Linked DNA regions of Homo sapiens: regions 1, 2 and 4 are each reported to be linked to region 3. The links are microRNA targets in miRTarBase. Many come from high-throughput screens and were not tested one by one. Region 3 holds a microRNA gene; each other region holds the end of a gene's coding sequence.

The links. The annotated mature microRNA hsa-miR-495-3p reads AAACAAACAUGGUGCACUUCUU and lies in region 3 at 2,218-2,239, shown strand. An mRNA with a match to its seed (bases 2 to 7 or 8) in the 3' UTR can be bound and repressed. Matches are read on the target gene's strand: a 7mer-m8 pairs with bases 2 to 8, a 7mer-A1 pairs with bases 2 to 7 and ends in A, and an 8mer does both.
Region 1: miRTarBase lists SNX24 as a target of hsa-miR-495-3p. Seed matches in the 3' UTR shown: 7mer-m8 at 5,044-5,050 and 7mer-A1 at 5,027-5,033.
Region 2: miRTarBase lists IL15 as a target of hsa-miR-495-3p. Seed matches in the 3' UTR shown: 7mer-A1 at 1,529-1,535.
Region 4: miRTarBase lists TMEM68 as a target of hsa-miR-495-3p. Seed matches in the 3' UTR shown: 7mer-A1 at 1,375-1,381.

The regions. Positions count from the first base shown.
Region 1 is chr5:123,006,476-123,013,583 of GRCh38, reverse strand. SNX24 (sorting nexin 24) reads right to left here. Exons shown (of 7, transcript NM_014035.4): 7 at 4,379-5,902. The coding sequence ends at 5,835. It overlaps LOC124901213 (small nucleolar RNA U13), which reads left to right and starts at 3,944; the gene lies at 3,944-4,042.
Region 2 is chr4:141,731,817-141,738,934 of GRCh38, forward strand. IL15 (interleukin 15) reads left to right here. Exons shown (of 8, transcript NM_000585.5): 8 at 922-2,171. The coding sequence ends at 1,032. Among named protein-coding and RNA genes, the nearest start is that of IL15, 99 kb to the left of the region's middle.
Region 3 is chr14:101,031,587-101,038,712 of GRCh38, forward strand. MIR495 (microRNA 495) reads left to right here and starts at 2,169; the gene lies at 2,169-2,250. LOC124903407 (mucin-2-like) reads left to right here. Exons shown (of 5, transcript XM_047432049.1): 5 at 1-2,896. It overlaps MIR543 (microRNA 543), which reads left to right and starts at 401; the gene lies at 401-478.
Region 4 is chr8:55,733,862-55,740,987 of GRCh38, reverse strand. It overlaps TMEM68 (transmembrane protein 68), which reads left to right. Exons shown (of 8, transcript NM_001286657.2): 8 at 770-2,230. The coding sequence ends at 856. Among named protein-coding and RNA genes, the nearest start is that of TMEM68, 36 kb to the left of the region's middle.

The DNA of each region.
Region 1 (7,108 bases), not on the chromosome of region 3:
CCGTCACACAAAAATAGACCTTCACCCTCATCAGAATCCAGTCTGTCACTATGTATCTGCACAGACAGAAAACATAAACGTTGCAGACATTTTGGTTTTGAGTTACTGCCTGCTACTTCCCTGTGTTTCCGCTGCTGAATTCAAAATCTGTAATTATCATCAAGAATAAAAACCAAAACAAAGCCAAAATGAAAATAATTACTTGCAAGGAGTAGAGAGACTGGAAGAAGACAGCCTTAATCACTGAACTTTATGTCCAATTCATTAAGATGGAAAAACCCTTCCTAGTAAATGGCCAACAATTCCAGAAGGCAAGGATTACATCTGTATTCTTTAAGTAATTAACATAGTGCCTTAATCCAGTGGGGGGACCCAAATGCATTTCACTGAACAACTGAATGAATGAATATACAACTTCCCAATTATGTATAGTGCATCTATTGAGACCACTACCCAAACTTGTCCTTCCTGCTTCTTCAGGGTCTTTTCCTGTGACCTCATATAACAAACACCCCCAAGAGTTGAACAGATGTTCTCTTGGTACTGGATTCTGAAGGAGTTATGAAAGTCAATAAATAATTCAAGATGGCTAAAGGGTGGGTCATAAACCATCTCCATCAATTGGTGGTCCCTAATACAGGTGTGTATCAGAGTGAACTGGGTGGTGTTTCTAACTACCCAAGGACAGGTCTCTGGCCAGATTTATTGATTCAGAATCCCAAGTGATTCTGATGCAAATCTCTGGTTTAGAACTACTGTTTCAGGATTGTAGAGGTTGCCAGGGATGTGAGACTAGTAACTGGTATGTGTGCCAAAAGCTCTCCTGCACCCACGACAGACAGTGCTACCTGATCAGTACAGCCTTATTCTCTGAGCCTGCAGTCACTCAAAAGCCTTTATTGTTTTTATTGTGGTAAAATATACATGACATAAAATTTATTTTAACCATTTTTAGTGTACAATACTATGGCATTAAGTACATTACATTGTTAAGCAATGATCACCACCAGCCAGCTCCAGAATGTTTTCATCTTCCCCAGCTGAAACCTATTAAACACTAATTCTCCATTTCCTCTTTTCCCCCAGCCTCTGTCAACCAAAGTTCCACTTTCTGTCTCTATAAATTTGACTACGCTAGATACTTCATAGAAATGGAATCATACAGTATTTGCTTTTTTGTGACTGGCTTATGTCTCTGAATGTCTTCAAGGTTCATCTGTGTTGCAGCATGTGTCAGAATTTCCTTTTTATCCATTCATCCATTGCCGGACACTTGGGTTGTTTCCACCTTTTGGCTACTATGAATATATGCTATGAACATGAATATATGTATTAGTCCGTTCTCATGCTTCTATAAAGGACTGCCCGAGAGTGGGTAATTTATAAAGGAAAGAAGTTTAATTGACTTACAGTTCCACATGTCTGGGGAGGCCTCAGGAAACTTACAATCTTGGCAGAAGGGGAAGCAAACACATCCTTCTTCACATGATGGCAGGAAGGAGAGGTGCCAAGCAAAAGGGGGAAAAGCCCCTCATAAAACCATCAGATCTCACGAGCACTCACTCACTATCATAAGAACAGCAGCATGGGGGTAACTGCTCCCATGAGTCAATTACCTCCTGGCAGGTCCCTCTGACGACCTGTGGTGATTATGGGAACTAAGATTAATTCAAGATGAGATTTGGGTGGGGACACAGCCAAACCATATCATTATACAAATAGCTGTTTGAGTCCCTGCTTTCTTCTTTTAGGTATATATCCAGAAGTGGAAGTGCTGAATCACATAGCAATTCAATGCTTAATTTTTTGAAGAAGTTATACCATTTCCCACAGAGGCTGCAACCATTTCACACTTCCACCAGCAATGTACAGTTACAAGGGTTGCAATTTCTCCACCTCCTCACCAACACTTGTTATTTTCTGCTTTGATAGTAGCCATCCTCACAGGTGTGCCAGAATTCTTCTTGATGCAGCACTTCAAGCAGCCATTGTCAATCGATCAAAGTTGACAAATGAGATGAAAACCATCTGTTATTTCAAAAGTGTGATCATATTTCTCTAAACTGATTAAGAGAGCTCAACTTCTTTTCAATGGGAACTTATAACTGTAACTGTAGGATTTACCAGGTATTGATGGTCATGGTGATATTGGGGTTGTTCACATGGCTGATTGTAATGGGGGCAGTAACAAGGACACCAGGAGAAAGGACACGAGGGCTGCCAATATGCAGAATGAGTAGGCAGAGATGAGGCCTGAGAGGCACTGCATAAGGTAGCATCGAAGACAGTCCAGGCAAAACACCAAGTCCAGGAACCAGGCAGGACAAATGATGTCCCCACATCCTGACTTAAGTGGTAATGGGATTTTTTTTTTCCTTTTCCTTCCTCTGGTTTCCTTTCTCTGTCCTTTACTTCTCTATTGCCTGTGAATCCATGGTTTGAATGATTAAAGTTTTTGATATTTCCCCAAGTGCAGGGTTCCAAGCATGACTTGGAATACTATTAACACTGTGGTCCATGTGAATGACACTGCTTGGACTTGTGCAATGCACAACCTGTAGAGCAATATGGGCCAGGCATGCCTAGTGAAATCGAAAAGTAAAATGTCTATCAATATGGTAGTGGTTACACAAATTATAGAAGATCCATACAGCTTTTTTTTTTTAAAAAGAGAATAGCACTTTATATACTGATACAGAAAGATTGCCAAGATATTGTTAAATAAAAAAAAATAGAAAGCAATGGGTATTGCGTGCTACCATTTTTGTAAAAGAGGAGAAATTAAATATATGTACACTAAACATACAATATCTGCTTGTATGTAGATGAAATATTACTCAAAGTAGACACATTAAGTACAGACACATTAAGTACTCCCTTCTGTGGAACGGGAATTCGGTATTAGGAGATGAGATGGGAGACAAATTTATTTTTTATCTATAGTTTTATATATTTTTTATTAAATTTTCAACCATGGAAATGATGGAAATATGTTCTGGCTGGGCACGGTGGCTCATGCCTGTAATCCCAGCACTTTGGGAGGCCAAGGTGGTTGGATCACGAGGTCAGGAGTTCAAGACCAGCCTGGCCAAGATGGTGAAACACTGTCTCTACTAAAAATACAAAAATTAGCCAGGCGTGGTGGCATGCGCCTGTAATCCCAGCTGCCCAGGAGACTGAGGCAGAGAATGCTTGAACCCAGGAGGCAGAAGTTGCAGTGAGTTGAGATTGTGCCACTGCACTCCAGCCTGGGCAACAGAGCAAGACTCCGTCTTCAAAAAAAAAAAAAAAGTTCCATCATCTTTCCCATGTGCATTCCTGAGCTGTAGAAGGCTAGCAGCTTCTTCCCAGACTCCCTGCACCTGGGATGGAGAATAAGGTTCTACAAACTGGATGTGCGTTGAAGGGAGCTATGGAGTGGGAGGTGGGAGTGGGCGAATACCATCCTCCTGCCACTTTGGGCTGTGGTTGCTGGCAAGCAAGGCCACGGATGTTGATAGGCAATTGTGATGCAGGCCCAGTCACCAGCTTCCTGGGTGCTGCTATGAGGCCGCACCTCATAGAGAGATCGCCATTATATTTCCTGGGAGCTCCGTATCTCATGGAGATAACAGGTCCTTTTTGATTCTACTTGCTGATCCCTGGATTGCAGCTCTCATGCTGTTTACCTCAAGAGCTTCGCTCACAGCCCCCTAACTCCCTGTATTCCTGCTTACAGCACAGGCTGTAGCTCCCCAGGCAGGTCAGTGCTAGAAGTTGCTGGGGCATTCTGGAATTTGTTCTTGGACACCTACCAGGAGTGCACTCCTCTCACCCTTCCAACAGATTCTGTAAGCATTCAGTTTTCAGCATTATAGCCTTTTCTGCGTAAAAGACCTACACTGGTTTCTAGTTCCTTCAATAACCCTGACAGAATTACACATTAAAAGTTTAAATAGATATGATCCTTGTGTAGTGCATAAGTGTGATGACTGGGTTTTCCCACTCTTGTGAGGTGTGCCTCCTGCAAATCTTATGATGTCTGCATATGACTTGTTTGACATGGGAAATAAAATTTACATAAATATAAAAAGCGAAAGTCATCACTAAGAAAAAACTTAATTCTCAGAAAAGATTTCTTGGGCAGTGTACCACTATAGATACTTGGTTTTTTCAAAAAAATTCTTATTATCTTGGTAAATCATCAAATATTTAATGAACATCTACTGACTTAATAGATGAGATAATTTATTATAATAATTTATCTTATCATATTAGAAATAAACATCTATGTGAATGTGTGAGAGGTTTTGTGTGTGCACATATGTGTGTGTGTGTGTAAACAGACAGATACAAACCATGTTTCCAGTGAAATCTTAGGAGAAGACAAACTCAAATGTTTCCTTGTTCTGTTTTTATTTAACTCCAAATAGCTAATAACATAAAAACATTTTAAAAAAATCTCCAATACCCAACTATTACTTTTGGTTGACAACATTTGATTATTTAGTTCTTGCTTGTTTCCCACATGTAGTACAGAATCTATCATAATATTTTAAAAGTTTGCAGCAGGCTTAAAACCTGAATATTTAGATCCTAATCAAAAACCATGATGTAGTTATTAGTTTTGATTTTAAATACCTTGCTCCCACAGAACTTACTAAAACGAATAACCATAAATAGGCTAGCTATTAATTAGATCTCAATGAAATGCCCACATACAGCACATACATATAGGTAGTATATATGCTTTTATCCTTTACTACTCAAAGGATGATGTACAGTGGAGTTATATCATAAACACATTTAACTTACATTAACTCAACAAATGAGGTCAGTGAAAAGGAAGCCGTAAGGAAAATAACATGAAATCCTGTGGCGATCCCACCTAAAATGAATGCACACCCTTGAGTAAACCCAGGTGGGTGCTGTCCATCCGCTGGGTGGGCGCTTCACTCCTTGTCAGTTCACATCTGCCACTAGCGGGGCAAGCATCTTGCGGGCTGATTCTAGTGTTAAAAGTTATGTGCTTTTTTTTTTTTTTTTTTAACAAAATGGCCCCTAAACAAACACCAACAACTTCACTTGGTCTTCAAACAAAGAAACAGTCTTTTTTTCCAACATAGGAGGAAAAGCTACTTGTTGTGGATGTACAGGTTTCCAACATGGCACCCTTCTAAAGGGCTTTCAAGGATCATCCTAATAGCCCATTTTACCTATGTACTGACCTTGGAAGCTAACCCCTGAGTATGATGCAACTCCACTCTAATGTAAATTAAAATGCCATGATCTTAAAAATGCCATAATATTGTCAGTATAATTTAATTTCCAGTTTAGTTCCATCTTCACATTTAGCAGTGTGTGTCTGTGGCCGTCTCCTGGTGCCAGCATTTCAGAATGTACTATCACTGGCTGAGAAAATCTCACGGTGAGAAGAGTAGTGTGTCATAAGATCTGAACAAAAAAGCTACCAAAGTTGATCAGTCTCAGTATGATTCAGGATATGATTTTCAATTAGCAAATGGTGCGACTGAAGCAGAGAGTGGCTTTGTTTTGCTACACCCAGTGCTCCCAGGAATCTCCTGTGGCCTCCTTTTCATGGGTTTCTACGCTGGCAGCTACACTCTACTTCTTAAACACTTGGCCTTAGCCTGACCACCGCCCCGGTTCAGTTTCTATTTTTAAGAGCACCATTCTAATGGAAATGTCCCTGCCCTGAATTAAGCTGGGACTGTGCACTTTACCACTAGCTAGAGCTGTTATATATCATAGCGTTTAGGTTAAATTGGTAGGTATTGATTTCCTTGACTGTGACTTCGAAACTTGCTTCTGCTTCTTTTAGCCATGTAGGATTTCTACCTGGGCTGTAGATGAGGGTAAAATATCCCATGGAGGACTCCTTCAATAACCACATTTGGAAAATCTGAAAAAAAGAAAAAAAAAAAGAAAAAAAAAAGAAAAACTGCTTTTCTTATGTGAAACAAAATATAATTGCATTCTGTAGAATGGAACAAGGCAATGCTTACGGTAAACACAGGAATCTGCATCGCCAGGCATGTGCCTGGTTGAGGATGTGCTATCAGTCATGCTGCTTCAGCCTAAAGCCACTTGAGCACACCACCAGGCGCGGCAGGAATGTGCGGCCAGATTTGTAGCTTATTGATTTAAGGGATGTTCTAACAGTTAATGCTGCTAGGCCTCAGCTCTTTATCTGAATGTTTTCTCAAAAGGAAGATGGATTACACTGGCAATTCAATTTCTAACAAAATCTCAATATACTTGAAGGAATTCCAAGATTTCTACTGGGAATACCTCACTGCAGTTTTTCCATTGTGGTTTACAGTGCATTTAGTCCAAGTTGTCCTGAGTCTACTTGTTCCATTAGACTAGCTTCGAAAGAGAGCAGTAAGATGGGGGTCAGTCTTCCTAACTTAAAAGGGCAAATTTCCAACAGAAGCCATCCTGCCAAACTTGAAAACACAGCTCCATTATTATAGGAGACAGGAAGGGAGGCCAGGGGTGCAAAGTATGTTACAGCACATTCCAGTCATTACAGTAGGTAAAATGTGAATGGATTACTTGAATGGGAACCAATCTATCTCATGGTTCAGAAGTTTAATTTTTAAACTTTAATCTGTACATAATGATATCCAGGAACTATCCTAAAGCACTTTAAATAAATATCATTATTATGTAAGAAAATAAAAGTAGTCCAATATTTTAAGAAAAAAAATATGCATCTAGCCTCTATTGTCTACTGTGTAAATAAAATCATTTACTAGGGGATTGGGCCTCATCAGAGGAGGCAGAAAGGCTCTCAGAGGCTAGGGGTAGGCAGAGGGAGCTAGCCAGGTGGCAAGTCTGTGGCCAGAGGGAGCCTGGAGGGTTCAGAGACCTAAACGAAAGCCAACATAGTGAGAAAAGTGGGAATGAGGAGGCTGGAGGGCACGGGGTGCCCCATCACACCTGGGAAGAATGGATAGGAGTTTGGGCTTTATCTGAAACTCAATGGGAAGCTACTGAGGGAGTTTAAGCAGAGTGGGACAGAGTTGAACTGTGTTTTGAAAAAGATGATTCTGGCTGCCAGCTGGAGAATGGACTGGAGAAGTTCAAAGCAGACACAAGATCA
Region 2 (7,118 bases), not on the chromosome of region 3:
TTTTTATTTTTGCTGGCACAGCCTTCATGGTTCAGATGATCTCTAAAAAGTTTATTCTTAATTGCTACATTTGGAACATTCTAGTTATCCATGAGACTGTGTTTGAAGTACAACAATTTGTGGTATTCACCTAAATGGCTCAGTTCAACCAATGGGTGATTACAGTGTGTCAGGCCCTGTGCTAAATGCTAGGGAAACAAACATACTGGCTCTGACCTTCTGGCAGAGAGCTTAGAGAATAGTATTACAGTATAAAAAGAGTAAAACTTCATAATATGAATAGAATACATGACATATTGTGAGAGAGGTCTAAATAAGGGGTTCTGAGATGTAAAGATGGGACATTGAGTCCAGCCCTAGGAGCCCAGGGGTTCAGAGAAGCCTCCCTAAAAGAGTACCTGAATAATCTTAAGTGCGAGTAGCAGCAGCTAAAATAGGAATGAATGTAACAGAGAGAAAAGCAAAGGCAGAGAGGCATCTAATAGTATGCTGTGCATGGCAAGGAAAGCCAGATGCTCACTCAGTGTTTCTAGGGCATAACATTGAGGCAAGGGGGATATGTGAAATAAATAGGTAAGGAACAGCTCATGAAGAGCCTGTGTGCTATGCAGGGAGGCATGGTCTTTATGCTAGAAGCAGATGATAGGAAACCATTGAAGGGCTCAAAGCAGGAACTCCGTGGTCTGATAGACACAGCTTATTTTTCTCAATGTCCTTAACCCATTATTGGAAAAATAAACATATATCAAATCTCCCTGTTCTCTTTCCTCGTAGTTCTTCCTAATATGCTATTTATTTGCTAAAGCTTTCATATCTCAAGACCTCACCATATGGTTCAAACGATATGATATTCCCATTCCCATGAATGTATATTTAATTTAATTATAAATTGCCAATTTAATCTCTCTCTATATTTTGCAGAATGTAACAGAATCTGGATGCAAAGAATGTGAGGAACTGGAGGAAAAAAATATTAAAGAATTTTTGCAGAGTTTTGTACATATTGTCCAAATGTTCATCAACACTTCTTGATTGCAATTGATTCTTTTTAAAGTGTTTCTGTTATTAACAAACATCACTCTGCTGCTTAGACATAACAAAACACTCGGCATTTCAAATGTGCTGTCAAAACAAGTTTTTCTGTCAAGAAGATGATCAGACCTTGGATCAGATGAACTCTTAGAAATGAAGGCAGAAAAATGTCATTGAGTAATATAGTGACTATGAACTTCTCTCAGACTTACTTTACTCATTTTTTTAATTTATTATTGAAATTGTACATATTTGTGGAATAATGTAAAATGTTGAATAAAAATATGTACAAGTGTTGTTTTTTAAGTTGCACTGATATTTTACCTCTTATTGCAAAATAGCATTTGTTTAAGGGTGATAGTCAAATTATGTATTGGTGGGGCTGGGTACCAATGCTGCAGGTCAACAGCTATGCTGGTAGGCTCCTGCCAGTGTGGAACCACTGACTACTGGCTCTCATTGACTTCCTTACTAAGCATAGCAAACAGAGGAAGAATTTGTTATCAGTAAGAAAAAGAAGAACTATATGTGAATCCTCTTCTTTATACTGTAATTTAGTTATTGATGTATAAAGCAACTGTTATGAAATAAAGAAATTGCAATAACTGGCATATAATGTCCATCAGTAAATCTTGGTGGTGGTGGCAATAATAAACTTCTACTGATAGGTAGAATGGTGTGCAAGCTTGTCCAATCACGGATTGCAGGCCACATGCGGCCCAGGACAACTTTGAATGTGGCCCAACACAAATTCATAAACTTTCATACATCTCGTTTTTAGCTCATCAGCTATCATTAGCGGTAGTGTATTTAAAGTGTGGCCCAAGACAATTCTTCTTATTCCAATGTGGCCCAGGGAAATCAAAAGATTGGATGCCCCTGGTATAGAAAACTAATAGTGACAGTGTTCATATTTCATGCTTTCCCAAATACAGGTATTTTATTTTCACATTCTTTTTGCCATGTTTATATAATAATAAAGAAAAACCCTGTTGATTTGTTGGAGCCATTGTTATCTGACAGAAAATAATTGTTTATATTTTTTGCACTACACTGTCTAAAATTAGCAAGCTCTCTTCTAATGGAACTGTAAGAAAGATGAAATATTTTTGTTTTATTATAAATTTATTTCACCTTAATTCTGGTAATACTCACTGAGTGACTGTGGGGTGGGAAATGATCTCTTAAGAATTTGATTTCTTTCTATTCCATAGTACAAACTCGTTCTCTGTTGAAACATTCTTCTATCACCCCAGTGCCCTATCCATGTACATGTGTTCTTATTGCTCTAGTCAAACGGTGCTTATAAATATCTTTCAGAAAGTTTAGGAGAAATCTGTATCCTATTTGACTTCCAATAATCATGTATTGGCTGTCAGCTTCTTACCTACTCTCAGTCCAGAGAAATAGTATTTGGCAGCCACTCTTTAAAGTTTATGGGTTGTGGATTGTGGCGGTTGATTTATTTTTTTTATTTCAATTGGGATAGAATTTTTTAATATACCTGTATTTTTGTTTTGTTTTATGTAGCTTTTCTATTAGGGAGAGTAGGAAAAGTGCACCATTTTCTTCTCTAAATTTCCAGTCCAGTCTTTAGGGGAATGTTAGTCTTCCTGAGATGGGGGAAGGAAAATCATAATGCCAGTCACTTTGCAAATAATATTTTATAGTGATAAATGGTTCATTTTGGTTACATAGGCATACAAGTGGGCTTAAAACTTGGAATTTACCAGGGCTCAAAATTAAAATTCTTACATTAGTTACTCGATATGGATCGCTTCAGTTGATCTTAGAAAACTCAAGGCATAGATCTGCAACCACTTTAAAATACTATTAGTTAACTGAAGAAACAAAATAATAGTGTAAAACAATCTAAATTTTATTTTTCATGCTTATACTCTTTACAAAATCAGTCTTTCAGATTTTGGATTCAAAATCTGCCTGTTTGAACTATCTTCCTTAATTAACCCACTCAGTGTCATTTGCCTAGAGGATACTGTGTTTATGTCTCATTTACTGCCTTAATTGCTGAAAATATCGTCCATGTAGAACATATAATAAAGAAAGCACAGAAACGTATACTTAGAAACTCAAATAGTAAAGGTAAGCGTAACAATATGATATACAGTTCAAAGTTATATTGATGAATTTTGTTTTTATCTTTTCTTAATTTCAGGAAAGTAAAAGACATATGAAAGAATATTATCTCTACATTCTCCCTGGCGATGAACAAAAAGGGCTAGAAGGCAGAGGACATGGAAATGTAAACAGAACCAATATATAATTGTTGAGCCCAGGCCGGGCACGGTGGCTCACGCCTGTGATCCCAGCACTTTGGGAGGCCGAGGCGGGCGGATCACGAGGTCAGGAGATCGAGACCATCCTGGCTAACACGGTGAAACCCCATCTCTACTAAAAATACAAAAAATTAGCCTGGTGTGGTGGCAGGCACCTGTAGTCCCAGCTACTCGGGAGGCTGAGGCAGGAGAATGGCATGAACCCAGGAAGTGGAGCTTGAGTGAGCTGAGATCGCGCCACTGCACTCCAGACTGGGGGAAAGAGCAAGACTCTGTCTCAAAATAAAATAAAATAAAATAATTGTTGAGCCCAGAGAATTTTAAAGCCTAATCACAAAGCTAGTATTATATACTCTCATTTTTTTAATCTTAGAAGGGTAAGTCACAGAATGACTTTTTTCTTTTGCTACTGTTGTTGTGAGAGAGGATCACGTGTTTTGATGTGCTACTGTTTATGACCATCAAATTCAATAACTCATAAGGTCAACCAACATATACAATATGAAAATCAAGTAGTGTGGCTGTTCCTTCCCTTCTCCCCCAACTTAGCACAAAAATACTAGAGAATGCATTTTAGTTCCTTCATCTTTGTTATGTCAGACTTAGCTTAAGCTCTTTGCATTCCTTGTGAGCCATGGTTAAATGTATGCATGCCATATATAAATATTTTGCACAGAGAAAATCTCATTTCCATAGAGGTTTGGTTCAATGTTTCTGAATGTGTCTGATGACTGAATTGTGTCCTTAGTAAGAAATTGGTTATGCAAGGTAAACTTTAGCTTCATTAAACAGTGTCCTAATTGTAATTGTATAATCTATCAGATGACACACAGAAGAAAAATTAATGAATTATTAATAAAGGCTAATGATTTTATTCTATATTTTACTTCTTCAATGCTGTACTTCAAAATGACAATTAGAGGAATTGAAAAGGAAATTGTTAGACAAGTAGAATTGAAAATTCTACAAGTAATTTATACAAAGTTGTCAACACTTTCAGAATATGGTCATCAGAGAATCCAGAGTCACCCAACAGGTGATTTGTCTTCATCATCATCCTCACTTTTTTTTTCATTAACAAATTCTCTCCTTTAGTCATATTGAAAGCATCATTCTTGAAAACCTATTATATGTGAACATTATGTTAGATGCTACAGTTCTAGCTGTGAATAGAAAGCCATAGTCTCAGCCTTCACAGAGATTGCATTTCAGCAGAAGAGCCATATTATCAAAGTAATAACTTGAGGACTTATTCACTTACCATCATTTCTAATGAACACCACCAGAAGAACATATAATTGGAGGATCTGATTCATTCAAGGTATCAGAATTTCTTTGAGAAAGTGATATCTGAGGCCAACTACGAATTATGATTAGGACTTATCTGGGGTGAAGTGGGAAGAGTCCACCAGCAAAACAGCTTACCAAAACCTTCAGTCAGGAAGGATCATGGCATTTTCATAGAGTGGAAGGAATGACAGTACAGCAAGGCTAAAGGAAAGAACTAAAGAGGAAGCTGGTAAGAAAAGTATCAACTGGTTAGGGTCTAGTAAGAATTTGCTGTCTGACCAAAAGAAATGAGACTTACTCTGAAATGCATAAAATATATAGAATGTATTATTTTACCATCAAGAAAAGAGGTGAAGTCAAAATTCCCTTACCACTAAATCCCAAGTTAATAAAATAATTTCTAATAACAACATCTTACATGGGCCTCATCATTGCAGTCATTTAATGAATTCTTTTCAACTTAATGGACATAAACTTCAGCAAGTAATTATCTGCTCGCTGTCCAAAACAACAAGCCTTTTTGTAGTGTATATAGTTTGAGAGGCTGAAGTCAGGACAATTAACATATGAATCCATAACTGGGGAGGAGAGCTGAGGAGGATGATGGAATAGCTCTCTTCAGGGATTGCCTCTGCCCACAGAAAGATCAATTTGAACAACTATCCATGCATGAAAATACCTTCAAAATAGCTAAGGAAACCAGGTGAGAGTTTACAGTGCCTGATTATAGCATAATAATAAGAAAAGATGCATTGAAGAGAGTAGAAAGGATGGTTTTATATTATTTGCATTACCCACCCACCCTCACCAATCCCAGACACATGGCACAGAGAGATAGCATCTGCTTGTGAGAAAGGGAAAGAAATGAGCATAGAATTTTGCCTTGATACCTAATATCAGAGTCAATCCAAACAAGACTATCCCAATACATATTATAATCAAACTGTTAAAGATCAAAGACAAAGTGAGTATCCTGAAAGCAGGAGAAAAGGAAGAAATAACATGTAAGGAAGTTTCAGTACACCTAGCAGCAGACTTCTCAGCATAAAACTTACAGGTCAGGAGGAAGTGGGATGATTCAAAATACTGAAAGAAAAATATTATTAACCAAGAATATTGTACCCAGAAAAGCTGCCCTTCAGAAATGAAGATGGTATAAAAACTCCCAACCAAAGAAAAGCTAAATGAGTTAACCACCACCAGACCTGTCTTACAAGAAATGCTAAAATGAGTTCATCAAGCTGAAAGAAAAGGATACTAATGAGTAACACAAAGCATCTGAAAGTATAAAACTTACTGGTAAAAGTAAGTACACAGTCAAATTTAGCATACTCTAATACTATAATGTGGTGTGCAAATCATTTGTATCTTTAGTATGAAGGTTAAAAGATAAAAGTAGTAAAAATAATAACTACAATATTAACTAAGGGATATGGAATATAAAAAGATGTAAACTGTAATATCAAAAATTCAAAATCGAAGGGGACGGAGTGAAAGTGTAGAGGTTTATTTTTTTGGTGATCAAAGGTAAGTTGTTAGCTTAAAATAACCTTTACAAGATTTTTTGGTCTGCCTTTTGGAAACCACAAGACAAAAACCTATAATAGATAAATAAAAAATAGAATTGAATCAAAACATACTACTAGCAAAAAAAATCACTTAATCGCAAAGAAAGTAAGAGAGGAAGAAAAGATCTACAAAAAGAAAGACAATTAACAAAATGGAAATAATAAGTCCTAATCCACCAGTAATTACCTTGAATGTGATTTGATTAAATTCTACAATAAAAAGACACAGAATGGATAAGTGATACAAAACCAAAACCCAATTATATGCTACCTAAAAGAGATTCACTTCACCTATAAGGACACACAGTGAAGAGATCTAAAAAAATATTCTTCACAAATGGAAACTAAAAGAAAGCAAAAGTAATTATACTTACATCAGATAAAATAGACATTAAGACAAAAACTGTAAAAAGTGCCAAGAAAGTCACTATATAATGATAAAGGATTCAGCAAGAGGATATAACAATTGTAAATATATATGCACCCAACATCAGAGCAACTAAATATATAAAGCGAATATTAATAGCTTTGAAGGAAGAGATAGACTACAATACAGCAATAATAAGGGACTTCAACACTTTACTTTCAGCATGAATGGAGCATCCAGACAGAAAATCTAAAAGGAAACATTGGATTTAAACCACACTCTAGACCAACTGGACCTATCAGACATAAAAAAGAACATCCCACCCAACAGTTGCAGAATACACATTCTTCTTAACTGAAGATAGAACATTCTCCAAAATAGATTAGATAATATGTTAGGCCATAAAACAAGTCTTGTCAAATTTAACAAGGTTGATATAATATCAAGTATCTTTTCTGATCACAATGGTATAAAACAAGAAATCAATAACAAGAAATTTGAAAAATTTACAAATTCACAGAAATTAAACAACATGTTCCTGAACAACCAATGAGTCAATAAAAA
Region 3 (7,126 bases):
CTTTGCTGTTTGTCCCTAAAGGGTGGGTGGTAGATCTCATCCATCTTATCTGGGGAGTTATTGTGACTCTCCTGGTCCCTCCTCATGTATCCTCAGGAGGACTTTTAGGATGCAAAATCACTGTTTCTGTGCCATTGTCATATTCTGTGCTACTGGAGGAGACTTTTTGTTATTGAGAAATTGAACACATCGTGCTCACAAGCAGCTCCAGGACACAATGCCACCTGTGCAGAGGGGGCAGACCTGTTAGATGTCTCCCAGGTCTTGAGGGGGTTGTATGCACGGCCATATCTTTGTCACCGGTTGCCCGGTGCGCATCAGGACCCATGTGCTCTCAGGAAGCCCGCAGGAGTGATACCAGCCGCGGAGAAGCAGTGTTGTCAACGGTGCTGACGTGCGGTACTTAATGAGAAGTTGCCCGTGTTTTTTTCGCTTTATTTGTGACGAAACATTCGCGGTGCACTTCTTTTTCAGTATCCTATTCTGCCTTGAAGACGTCTTGGTTTGGGTGCAACTTCAGGGAAGGCACATGGGCCCCTGTAGTGGACGCTGATCAGGACCTCCCTACCCCATGTCTTTTCTCCTTCCTAAATTTCTCCTTGTTTTTTTTTTTTTTTTTTTTTTTTATGAAAGCTCCCGTCTTCCCGCCGTGTGCTTTGATTGCATTGACCCTGCCCCACTTCCTCCACCAGCCCAGGCTTAAGCGAATCTCTTGATCTCTTCTCCTTTGCCACTGCAATTGCTTCCGGAATAGGCCCATGACCCCACTGGGCCAGTGATAGGCAAGGAGATGCTTGCTGCAGCTTCTGGGAAAGAAACTGTTTCTCCCTTTCCTGTGATAGCTGCCAGAGTAGACACTGTCTATTCCATTCAGCTGGGAATAGACAGTGAACTTTGACGTGAGCTTCGAAGGTCCCACAGCCGTTTAAGGACTGAGAGGAGAGGGCTTGGTGCCACGCAGACACAGCAGAGGGAGTCTGTACCATGAAAGGCATCTTGGAGACCTAGAGAAGAGCCTGGATGATATCATTTGAGTCCCTAGATCAAACCCTGCCTGAAGCTTGCTCTGTCTCTGTACTTTTTAGTTATATACGTCTATAAATCCCTTACTTGTTTAAGCCAGTTGGAGTTAGATCTTATCTTACTTGCAATACAAACAGATGATACCACAGTGTGTTTTCCAGTGTGACTGGGAAAGCCTGCATTTTTTTCAATGATGTGTTTCTCACGGTTTGCCTATCTATCTTCAGTGTCCTATTTAAGGCAGGGTTTTGGTGGAAGGTGACTTTTCTTATGGACTTATGCTTTCAAAGCTTTGTCTTAGTGATTTAATTTATGGTTGACAAATGATGCACAATTACCGTGTTTTGTGTCCAGCAATGGGTCACTGGGTCCTCTCTGGAAGGCCTGATGGATGGTGGGCCCCAGAACTTCTGCCCCGATTCACTCTCCCTCGAATCCACCTCTCTCTGGGAGGCTGCCCTGCAAGTGATGTGGACTTGGGGAAGCCGTTGTCCTTTCCTGGCCCCTGCTGTCCTTTGGCTCTCTGTGGGTTGGCTGTATTTGTCACAACTCACACTTAACTGTCAGTGTTTTAGAACCAAGCCATGCCTCCAGGGAACCCGGAGCACTTTAGAGAGGAGGTGCAGTGGTCAGCACCATGCAAGGTGCACAGAGAGATGGGTCCACCGAGAGCCGGGGCTGCCTTGGTGGTTTGTTTCTCCTGATTCGATATCTTTGTCTTCCCATCTCCTTCCTGGAACCATGGGCTCATGGAGGAGATTCTATTTTTGGGTCCAGGACCATCCCATTTTCTCTGAAGTGATGCTCTCCATGAGCATTTGCAGGGTTGATAGTAAACATTCCGAAAGCCGTCTGCCCTGATTATTGAATTCTGCCCATGAAGACTTCCTGGGATCCCGAAGTAGAGGGAGTCTGGGATCGGTTTGCTTTATCCGTGATGACTGTCCGCCTCTGCTCAGTGTCAGCCCAGCCCTTCGAAGCATGTCCCCCACCTCCCCTGGGGTGAGCCAACTTACCTGATGCTTTTAGGCTTAATTGAGCATAAGTTTGATTGGCAGCGTCTGCCCGGCCCTGCCCTCACGCCCTGACCCTCAGTGTCCCTTCACGCCCAGGTGTGCCTCTGGCAGGGAGGACGTGCTCATCTCTGGTACCTGAAAAGAAGTTGCCCATGTTATTTTCGCTTTATATGTGACGAAACAAACATGGTGCACTTCTTTTTCGGTATCAAATATCTCCTTGAAGTGCCTCCATCCCCGACGGGACCCTGAGCATGGGACCTGGTGTCACTACCTCTCTTGGTATGTACATGGAGGATTTGTCCTGGCAGCCCCTCGGTGACTTTGTGTGTTGGTGGGCTCAGGGACCATGCTCAGTCCTCAGTCCTCAGTCCACGCCCACCTCTCGGACAGGCACAGTTGGCGAGGCCTCAACCACATGCCAGTTCCCCGCTGCCAGGGAGGCTGGGGAGATGCACTTCCAGGCTCCATTGAGAAGCGTTCCCCAACATTTGAGAAGAGTTCAGATCATAGCAGCCAAGAAAAAAATAAAAAAGGAAGCAGCTGCCACAACAACAAAAACAAATAAGCAATGAAGACCCCTGCCCCCATCCGCTCTCTCCAGAGGCTTGAGGGGATGGCTGAAGGGGACATGAGGACATGCCATCTGGGGGACTGCCACCCGCACCTCCACAGAAGAATTGATTGGGGGTAGCAATTGTGGCAGAAGGCGTCCCTGTGGTTCTGGGAGATGGGATTTCTCAGAGTGGTGATTTACTGGAGCCTAATCCTCCCTGCCCCGCTCTTTCTTTACTTTTCTTTTCTTTTTTTCTTTCTTTTTTTTTTGACACAGAGTCTCGCACTGTCTCCTGGGCTGGAGTGCAATGGCACGATCTTGGCTCACTGTAACCTCTGCCTCCCAGGTTCAAGCGATTCTCTTGCCTCAGCCTTCCAAGTAGCTGGGATTACAGGCGCCCGCCACCAGGCCCAGCTAATTTTTTGTATTTTTAGCAGAGACGGGGTTTCACCATGTTGGCCAGGCTGGTCTTGAACTCCTGACCTCATGATCCACACCCACCTTGGCCTCCCAAAGTGCTGGGATTACAGGCATGAGCCAGTGCGCCCAGCCCCCGCCCCACTCTTTCTAGGTGCCAGTTCTGCCTCTGAGAGATGTGCTCCTTGATCACCAGCATCAGAGAGATGGTGTCTGACATTGGTGTCTGCCCCAAATCGGGAGCAGTGAACAATGGCTGACGGCAGAACACATGCCTTCCCGAAGACACTGCTGTCCGGGTGTCCAGTCCCCACATTCAGTCCATCCTTGGGCCCTGGAAGAGAAGAGGTTTCCCCAGTGTGTTCATTTTATTTGTGACGAATCATTTTTGGCCACTCTTTTTTCAGTATCAAATCCCACTTGAAGGGAAAGGCTGTTTGAGCTGGGAGCTTTGGTGGCATCAGCAGCTCTCTGGGGTGAGTGATGGGTGTTGCCCAGAGAGCATACGCGTCATCCCCACGGCCACCTGGTCCTCTGAACCTCAGCATCCCTGTCCCCCGAACCTCAGCATCCCTGTCCCCCAGGAGGGCTTCCTGGAGCTCTGCCAGCCAGAACTAGAGGCTGTGGGACTGCTCTCCGGGCTACACTTTGGTACTGGAGGAGAGGTTATCTGTGTTTTTTCCCTTTATTTATGATGAAAAATATGGTGCACTTCTATTTGAGAATCATGTGCCATCGGGAAAGGTCAGAACCCACTTCTGGAAGGAGATGCTAACGGCAGTCCATTGGTGACACTGGGACCATGCTGGCCTCAGCAGGTGCCCTTCAGACAGTGGGCAGCTGCTCCACCCATCCTTTGGGCTCTGGCCTCCCTCCAGAGAACTTCCCGGTGGCAGAAACACTTTGGAGAAGCAGCACCGGTCTTCATGTCAGGACATTCCATCAAGAAAGGCTGTCCAAGCTGTGGCCTGCATAGTCAACCTGTTTTACTCATTTGAGTGCCACCTTTCTAAATGATGGGGTGCCCACTTCAGGGAAGGTGCAGCTGTGGGAGCAGAAGGCAGGCCCCACAGTCTGTATATGACACGTGCCACTTGGCCGGTGGACCCTCAGCCTGAGGACCTCTGGAGGGGACACTGGCTCTGAGTCCCCTGTGGAAGGGGAAGCACAGTTGTTGGATGACGCGACATGGACAGTTCTCTTTCGACCAGATCCTTGTCTCCCATCGAGGGGGGATTCTGCTCTCACTGCTGCTTATGTCAGGAGAGGGTCACTGTTGCCTCCATCACCTCAGGTACGTCAGAGGAGGGCCTCAAGGAAGCCTTGCATCTCTGATGGTACGTATCCTTGTGTGTTAACCCTTGCCGTCTGTTTCCTTTGCAGGAGGACACCCTGGGCTCTGGAAGAGAGACAGCACCCCAGAAGCCGGCCAGGAATGGTTGGAGGGAGGCTATTGGTGATGTGTTCACTCTGTGTGTGGCAGATACCCCACAGTGGACCTCCTAAAGCACTGAGTGCCTCCTTGAAGGACTTGCTGTACGTGGTGTGAAGTTCAGGAACACAGTGTGGGTGTCTGTCAGCCCCTCGCAGAGGGTATGTGCGCAGATGGTGGAACAGCTGGCAAGTGTTTTCCTTTATTTGTTTTTTCTTTTGAGAATTGAGACTTTATTGAATGAATCACCATATAATCCTGTTTCCTAAGGTAAATCTATACATAAAAAGTTAGGTCCTACACCACCAATTTCTTGTTAAGAAATGGACCAAGAAATATGAACAAAACCATGTGTAACACAGTTTTCAGAGTTTTAGAAGAATGGCAAAATATACACTAGCTTGTCTCTTGATTGCCAAAGCTTAAACTCTAAAGAATAGGGAGGACATAGGTATACACTGGAAAAAAAAATGGCAAATACGTGAGGAGGATGGGAATGTTTGTGACTACATGGGAGGCAAACTGATTTTTTTTTTTTTGAGACGGAGTCTCACACTGTTGCCCAGGCTGGAGTGCAGTGGCGCAATCTCGACTCACTGCAAGCTCCGCCTCCCGGGTTCATCCCATTCTCCTGCCTCAGCCTCCTGAGTAGGTGGGACTACAGGTGCCCGCCACCACACCCGGCTAATTTTTTGTATTTTTAGTAGAGATGGGGTTTCACTGTGTTAGCCAGGATGGTCTTGCTCTCCTGACCTTGTGATCTGCCCGCCTCAGCCTCCGAAAGTGCTGGGATTGCAGGCACCCACCACCGTGCCTGGCTAATTTTTGTATTTTTAGTAGAGATGGGGTTTTGCCATGTTGGCCAGGCTGGTTTCGAACTCCTGACCTCAGGTGATCCGTCCACCTCGGCTTCCCAAAGTGCTGGGATTACAGGCGTGAGCCACTGCATCTGGCCAGCAACTTTTTGCATCTAAAAGGTGGATGTTCCTTCTATGCTTACAGGATTTATGGTTAATCACAGAGGAAGTACCATCAGGGAAGCCCATTCCAGGAGGAAGTGGGGAGGGGGCAGGTGAAAAAAGCGGAAGAAACCAATTAGGGGCATATGCAATTAAGGACAAGTCCTGAGCAGGGCTGCTGCAGCCACATCCCACAGCAGGGCCTGGGGAGTCAGCTGCACCTAGAGCTGAGGGCCCGGGGCAGACACGGATGTGTCAGTTCACTAGCCTGGGTACCCTAGCCAGGCCCCTCAGGGAGGGATGCCAGCCCCTTGGAAGAGACAGTGTGTGGGCTGACCTTTCTCCCAACACAGGGGAAGAAGAGTTCCTTGGCTGGTTACTACACCTACCCCAGCTCTTCCAGGCTGCCGCTGTTTCAGTTACCAAAAGAAGACCCCTAAGCCCAGCCAGCAGCTATTCCTCAATCACATGTCCCCCTCCTTCAGGACCATCCTGGCAAGACCCACTCCTTGGGACACGAATGATGTCTGGCCACACAGAATACATGTTTATGACTCAGACCGTCCAATTCCCTAACCAGCTATGTCCCACTGGTTCTCAACAGGGCCTCGTGGAGGCAGCCCCGACCTGGGGGAAGTGGCCTTGCTCTGGCTGGTATGTGCAGAATGCTTGTCCATGTAGACGTGCTTTATTTATGCCAAATCGTGCTTGGGGGCTTCGGGGGATCAGACTTGCTTCCTCAACAAGCTGTGACTGCAGGGGAGGGACTGGCTAATAGCAGACAATGGGTGTTATCTGGTCCACTCACTGATCCATTCGCCAGTAGGAGGAATGTCTAACTCTGCATGTGTGAGAAGTAGTGGTTTTCAAGTACAAGACTTTTTTGAACCAGTTCCAGCTTTAGAGAAGTGAGATTGGTGTAGGTTGTCCGTGTGTGGAATGTGAATGGAGGGTGGGACATGGAGCATACGCTTTGCTTGTGGAAAATGTCTCCTGGTCCTCAGAACTGAAGCCGTTTTAGCGGCACTTCCTGGAGTGATGGCACCCTTGCGAGATAGGGTTTGAGTCTGGGATTATTGGTCCTTCATTTTTTGCTATGGGAGGCATGTGTTGTCGCTATTTTAGTAAGCCTCTGCATCCACTCCACCCCAAAAATGATTTTTCTGGAAGCTGTGATCATTGTTTTTGGAGGGTGGTATTAGTGGTGGTGGTGGTGGTGGTGGTGGTGGTGGTGATGGTGGTGGTGGTGATGGTGGTGATGGTGGTATTGGTGGTGGTGGTGGTGGTGGTGGTACTGATGGTGGTGGTGGTGGTGGTGGTGGTGGTGGTGGTGGTGGTGGTGGTACTGATGGTGGTGGTGGTGGTGGTGTTGGTGGTGGTGGTGTTGGTGGTGTTGGTGGTGGTGGTTGTGATGGTGGTGGTACTGGTGGTGTTGGTGGTGGTGGTGTTGGTGGTGGTGGTGTTGGTGGTGGTGGTTGTGATGGTGGTGGTGGTGGTGGTATTGGTGGTATTGGTGGTGGTGGTGGTGGTGGTGGTACTGATGGTGGTGGTGGTGTTGGTGGTGGTGGTGTTGGTGGTGGTGGTGGTGGTGGTGGTGGTACTGGTGGTGGTGGTGGTGGTGGTGTTGGTGGTGGTGGTGTTGGTGGTGTTGGTGGTGGTGGTGGTGGTGGTGGTGGAGGGTGGTGGTGGTAGGGGCTGGTGAGCATCATGTTTTGCTACCTCT
Region 4 (7,126 bases), not on the chromosome of region 3:
TGCTGGGATTACAGGTGTGAGCCACCACGCCCAGCCAAAGGGGCGTATTTTTATAATACATCTTTGGCCTAGTGTTTATTTTCTTTAAAGGTTAAAGTCTAGAAAAGGAAGTATATATGTATGTAAATACATAGTTCATGATGACTCATGCCTGTAATCCCAGCACTTTGGGAGGCCAAGGCAGGAGGATCCCTTGAGTCCAGGAGTTCGAGACCAGCCTGAGCAACACAGTGAGACCCTGATATAATTGTTCAGTATGTATGGTGATAAAAGAAAATATACATTAGAATTTACTAATAGCTGGAAAGGACTAAGTCTTCCATTTGCCTACTCGAAATTTTTCTATTTTTTTTCCTCTTTAAGTCCCCTTTAGTGTTTATCATGTGCAAGGTGTTGCTGTGCTTAATGCTGGAGAAATTCTAAGATGTATCTTAAGGAGCTTACAGTCTGATATAGAAAATAGACACGTGGACAACAACTATAATTGAAGGCTTAATAAAATAAGTATAAGAAATATGCTGCAGCCAGGCACAGTGGCCCATGCCTGTAATCCCAGCACATTGGAAGGCCAAGGTGGGAGAATTGCTTGAGCCCCAGGAGTTCGAGAACAGCCTGGGAAACATAGTGAAACCCCATCTCTATAAAAAAGAGAAATATATAAGCTTCAGGTGTACTGAGAAGGAAATCATTAATTCTGAGGGGTAATGGGAGATAAATCAGTCTATATTAAGATCTACTAACAATAGCTTTTCTTTTGTTTTCTTAATAGACGAAGAATGCTGTTCAAGCTTTGATTGATAAGCACCAAAGAATACCAGGAAACATTATGAGTGCTTTGTTAGAACGTTTTCATTGATAACAAAGGGTCAACTAGAAGATGATTTAGTACATTTATATTAAATGTTTGTATCTAAGGTACTGTCTTCTGAATTTTGTAGGTCCTATAATTAGTATTTTTTAAAAAAATCATGTTAATAAGCATCTTTCACAGAATTCGTTTCTTTAAAATAGTCAATTTTGTTTTTGCAATTGTGTCAAATACTAACAAATTACACACCTAGTAATTCAGAAAAAGATGTCTTATTTGTAAATTCCTAACAATTTATGCTAAACATATAGATTCTTAAGTTTATTAATAACAGCAGTTTAGGTTAAACAAACATTCCTGGATAATGCGTTAAATTTCTGTATCTGTCGCCCTGAGCTGATTTTGAAAGATGGTATAAGCTAGGGGTTAGTATAGTTGTTTAAGTTAGAAAAAACATGCTGTTGTCTGCCCCTCATTCCCTTCATGACCTTGGGCAAGTCACGTAATGTTTTTGTGCCTCAACAATTCACTTTTTAAAAACATGATCGTATGATGAATGATATTATTTTGTTATTTATATTTACTGTGATTGATAACTGTTGAACCAAAATAATAAAATAATTAATTTAAACAATGTCAAAATCCTTTAGCAGTTATGTATATATTTTCTCCATTGTGTGTTTAAATTATGTCATGTCCAGTTGCCAAGCACAATGAAAAAGATGTATTATTTTTTAAATTGAATAAAAAATTAGGAAAAATAAAATTTCTAATTATTATTTTTAGTATGATATTTTTAACAAGAGTCTATAGGCAAACAATATAGGGTGTGCTGTGCATTGTCAGCCCTATACTGTGGTCTTAATAATGCCAGCTTAAAAATCACTGTTGTGCTCTGCATTTCGTGTGTTAGAAGCTGATTCTAGGCTGAGGAAAGCAAGAGTTCTCTACTTTTGCTCAATATTGAGGCTTACCCAGTTTGACTCTACAGCCAGTGAAGTGGTTTATTGCTTCAATAAAAATATACTTGAATGATGAATTTATTTATGTTTTGTTTTGTTTTTATTTAGAGATGGGGTTTTGCCATGTTGGCCAGGCTGGTCTTGAACTCCTGACCTCAGGTGATCCACCTGCCTCAGCCTCCCAACTTGCTGGGATTACAGGTGTGAGCCACCATGCCCAGCCTGAATGATGAATTTATGTGAACACAAAGCCCTCTGAAAAATTAATGATTTTCAATTTGTTGTCTTCTTGAAAACTGAATTTAAGTATTATTTAAACAGAAAAGTGTCAGAAATCAAATGCAGTATCTCCCTCTCCCTTTTTTAAATGTTGAATTAGTAGGGTTTTTGTATAGCTTTTTGTATTGTGTGTATTTATGATATGTGAAATGTACATAAAATTAAACAATGTGAAAATAAACCTGAGTTGCAGTTAATTTTCTTGAGAAATTACATGTGACATTTTAAAAATCTTTTTTTTTTTTTTTCTGAGATGGAGTCTCGCTGTGTCTGTTTCCCAGGCTGGAGTGCAGTGGCACCATCTTGGCTCACTGCAACCTCCGCCTCCCAGGTTCAAGCAATGCTCCTTCTGTCTTCTGAAGGAGCCTCCTGAGTAGCTGGGATTACATGAGTGTACCACTACACCTGGCTAATTTTTGTGTTTTTAGTAGAGACAGGGTTTTACCATGTTGGCCAGGCTGGTCTTGAACTGCTGACCTCAAGTGATCCGCCCACCTCAGCCTCCCGAAGTGCTGGGATTACAGGTGTGAGCCACTGCGCCCACCCTAAATAGTCATTTTAAATTGATTTTTTTGTTGTACTCTTTACACATTTCTCACCTATAATCATATTCTTTGATCTAGCCACAATGAAGAAACTTCACTTTCCAGTGTAATAAATATATTTTAATTTTGTGGTCAATGAGAAGAGTCAATTAATGATTACTTGCAGTTTCCTCCCCCCACCAGTGAGCAGTGTTTGGTTCAAAATTGATGAAATATTTCAGAATGAATGAATAAATGATATAAAATGAATGAGAAATTTGTTTTGGGTCAACTATTGAGTTTTAAAGACTGAAGTTAGCCAGGAGTGGTGTCATGAACCTGTAGTCCCAGCTACTTGGAAGGCTGAGGCGGGAGAATTGCTTGAGCCCAGGAGTTCGAGGCTGCAGTGAGTCGCAATTGTGCCACTGCACAGCCTGAGTGATAGAGCAAGCCCATGGTTCTATTAATAAAGACTAAAGAAAGAACAGCATTTATTGCTAATGTGGCAAAAGCTATTATTTTTACAATATTTAAGTTTTACTGCTTTAATTAAAACCTTTTTTTAAAACCCTGATATTCAGACTAACATCATTGCTTCAGATCTTTATCTTTGCTATTTGAGTTTAATTCCCATTTATAAGAGTCAGAGAATATGACTAAATATAGAAATATGGCTGGGCATGATGGCACACACCTATAATCCCAGCACTTTGGGAGGATTGCTTGAGGCCAGGAGTTTGAGACCACCTGGACAACATAACAAGACCTCTTATCAAATAAAATTTTTTTGTTTTTAAATTAAGCTGGGTTCAGTGGCTCACACCTGTCATCCTAACACTTTGGGAGGCTGAGGCAACTGGGTCACTTGAGCCCAGGAATTCAAGACCAGCCTGGGTGAAATCCTGTCTCTACAAGAAAACGCACAAAAATCGGCTGGGTATGGTAGTGCACACCTGCAGTTACAGCTACCTGGGAGGCTGAGGTGGAAGGTTGAGCCTGGAGAGGTCAGGGCTGCAGTGAGCCATGATTGTGCCACTGCACTCCAGCCTCAGCAACAGAATGACACCCTGTCTCAAAAAAAAAAAAAAAAAAAAAAATTAAAACAAAAGAAATATAAGTAATGGGAAGAAGGTGTATCAGTTTTTTTTCATAATTTTTCTTTCCCTTCTTATCACTTCTATTCATGTGTCTTGACCCTTTTTTGAGGAGTGTTCACAGTCAGAACCTGATGCAAGTATGAAGAGCCTCTCTCCAGAAGTGTAAACATGGCGCACTTATGGGAAGTTTTTCTTGCTCATTTTTAAAAACTTTCATTCTGAAACAATTCGAAGCTTACAGAAAAGTTGCAATTATAGTGCAGAGTACTCCCATACACTCTTCACCCAGATTCACCAAGGTAACATGTCACATTTGTTTTATTCTTTTCACACTCCTGTTGCCCTCGCTGTCTCCACATATGTATCTATACTTTTTCTCCTAGATCATCTGATAGTAAATTGCAAATACCATGCCCCTTACTGTTACCTGGACTGTGAGATCATCCATTTACAGAACCACAAGACAATGATAAAAAAAATCAGGAAAATCTTGATTGATATAATACTATTATCTATAGACTGTATTTAAATTTCACCAGTTGTCTCAGTAATATAATTTATATCAATCTTTCTTCCTGATTCATCCAAGGAAGGATCACACATTGCATTTAGTTTTCCTATTTCTTTAGTCACCTTTAATCTGGAATGATTCTTCAGCCCTTCTTTGTCTTCAATGATAGTGACCTTTTTGGAGAGGGGGGACCATTTATTTTGCAGATAAGCCCTCATTTTGTTTTTGCCTCACATTTCATTACAAGTTGATTCAGACTATGCATTATTTTAGAAATACAACATGAATGATGCTGCAGCTCTGTCCAGGGCGTCACATCAGGTGGCACATATGTTGGTTTGTGTCATTAGTGGCAATAACTTTGATCACTTGGCTGAGATGGCATTCACCAGGTTCCTTCCCTGTAGTTGTTATTTTTTTCCCTTTGTAATAAGGAAGCTTATTTTGAGATTCTTTGAGACTGTCTACAGTCATGCATTGCTTAATGATGGGAATATATTCTAGAAATGCATCGTTAGGCGATTTTGTCATTGTGTGAACATCATAAAGTATACTTACCCAAAGCTAAATGTATAGCCTACTACACAAATAGGCTGTATGGTATAGCCTGTTGCTCCTAGCCTACAAACTTGTACAGCATGTGACTACTGAATACTGTAGGCAATTGCAACACAATAGTATTTTGTGTATCTAAACACAGCTAAACTTAGAAAAGGTACAGTAAAAATAAGGTATTATAATCTTATGGGACCACTGTTGACTGAAACGTTACTATGTAGCACATAACTGCATGTAGCTGTTCCTCATCAAACCTTAACTAGTTAACTTGTTTTAGCATCTTTTGAATTGATTCTTGTGTGAATAAATTATTACTAGGGATTCAAGAGTGTGATTTTCTCATATCCTATATTTACTAGTTGGCATTCTTTTTTTTCTTTTTTTCTTTTTTCTTGAGACAGGGTCTCACTCTGCTGCGGGCAGTGGTGTGATCTCGGCTCACTGCAGCTTCCTGGGTTCAAGCAATTCTCATGTGTCAGCCTCCCAAGTAGCTGGGATTACAGGTGTGCGCCACCACGCCTGGCTAATTTTTGTATGTTTAATAGAGATGGGGTTTTCATGTTGGCCAGGCTGGTAGTAGTCGGCATTCTATAAGAAAGAGCATTCCAATTTCAGTATCGTGCCCCCCCACCCCCACCCCTAGGCTTTTAAAAATAATTTCAACTTTTAAATTCAGAGGGTACATGTGCAGGTTTGTTACATGGGTATAATGTGTGACTGCATGACTCTGAGGTTTAGGGTATGAATGATCTCATCCTAGTACCTAGGACCCAACAGATAGTATATCAGCCCTTAGCCTTTTTCCCTCTCCCCTGTAGTAGTCCCCAGTGTCTGTTGTTGTTTCCACTTTTATGTCCATACCCTTAGTTTTTCTTTCTTTCTTTCTTTTTTTTTTTTTTTGAGGCAGGATCTCACTTGCCCAGGCTGGAGTGCAGTGGTGTGACCACGGCTCATTGCAGCCTCGACCTCCCCAGGCTCAGGTGATCTGCCCACCTCAGCCTCCTGAGTAGCTGAGACTACAGGCATGTGCTGAACCCCCAGGCTAATTTTTGTATTTTTTATAGAGATGGGGTTTCATCATATTACCCAGGCTGGTCTCTAGCCCTTAAGCTCAAGTGATATGCCCCCCTTAGCCTCCCAAAGTGCTGGGATTACAACTGTGAGCCACCGTGCCTGGCCACCTGTATTTATTACAACATTTCTCACTTATTTATCACTTACAAGTATTTTCCCTCAAATATAATTGGGGCATGATTCGTTGACTCATTGGCCATTGGTGATTAAACTCAATCTGTAGCTCCTCTCCCTTCTCCTGAGGTAGGGATGGGGATGGGGCTGAAACACACACACACACACACACACACACACACACACACACACACACACACACAGATACACACCACATTTTGTTGATGAATGTTTGGGGTGATTGGTGTACAAACGTGTCTGAGTCTCTGCTTTTAATTCTTTTGGGTATATACCTAGAAGTGGGACTGCTGTCTCATATGGCAATTCCACATTTAAGTTTTTGTAGGAACCACCTGTAAACCAAAAATAAATTTCTGAGGCCCCTTGATAATAACTCTTTTAACAAATTGCCATCAGAAAAATTAATAATCTACATATGACCCCCCCGATTCCAACTTCTAGTTGTCCTGACCTTCCAGATCAAATCAATGTAAATCTTACATGTATTGATTGATTGTATTTTGTCTCCCTAAAATGTATAAAAGCAAATTGTACCCCAACCGCCTTGAACACATGTCATCAGGACCTCCTGAGGCTGTTCATGGGTGCATCCTTAACCTTGGCAAAATTAACTTTCTAAATTGATTGAGACCTGTCTCAGATACTTTTGTGCTCACACAGCAAACTTCCACAGAGACTGCATCATTTTACATTCCCATCAGCGATGCACCTTTACTAACACTTGTTATTTTCAATTTTTTTTGACAATAGCCACCCTATGACTAGTGGTGAAGTGGTATCTCACTGTGGTTTTGATTTGCATTTCCCTAATGATTAGTGATGTTGAGCATGTTTTCATGTGTTTAGTGGCCATTTGCATATCTTCTTTGGAGAAATATCTATTCAAGCCCTTAGTCCATTTTTGGATTGGATTGTTTTGTTGTTGATGTTGAGGTTTTGGAGTTCTTTATATATTCTGGATATTAATCTTTTATCAGATATATAATTTGCACATATTTTCCTCCTCTTTGTAGGTTGTATTTTTATACTTCAATAATGTCCCTTGATTAATAAAAGTTTTTAATTGTAATGAGATCCAATTTAGCTATTTCTCCTTCTTCTTCTCTCTCTCTCTTTTTTGGGCCTATGCTTCTGATGTCATATCCAAGAAATAATTGCCAAATTCAATTTTATTAAGA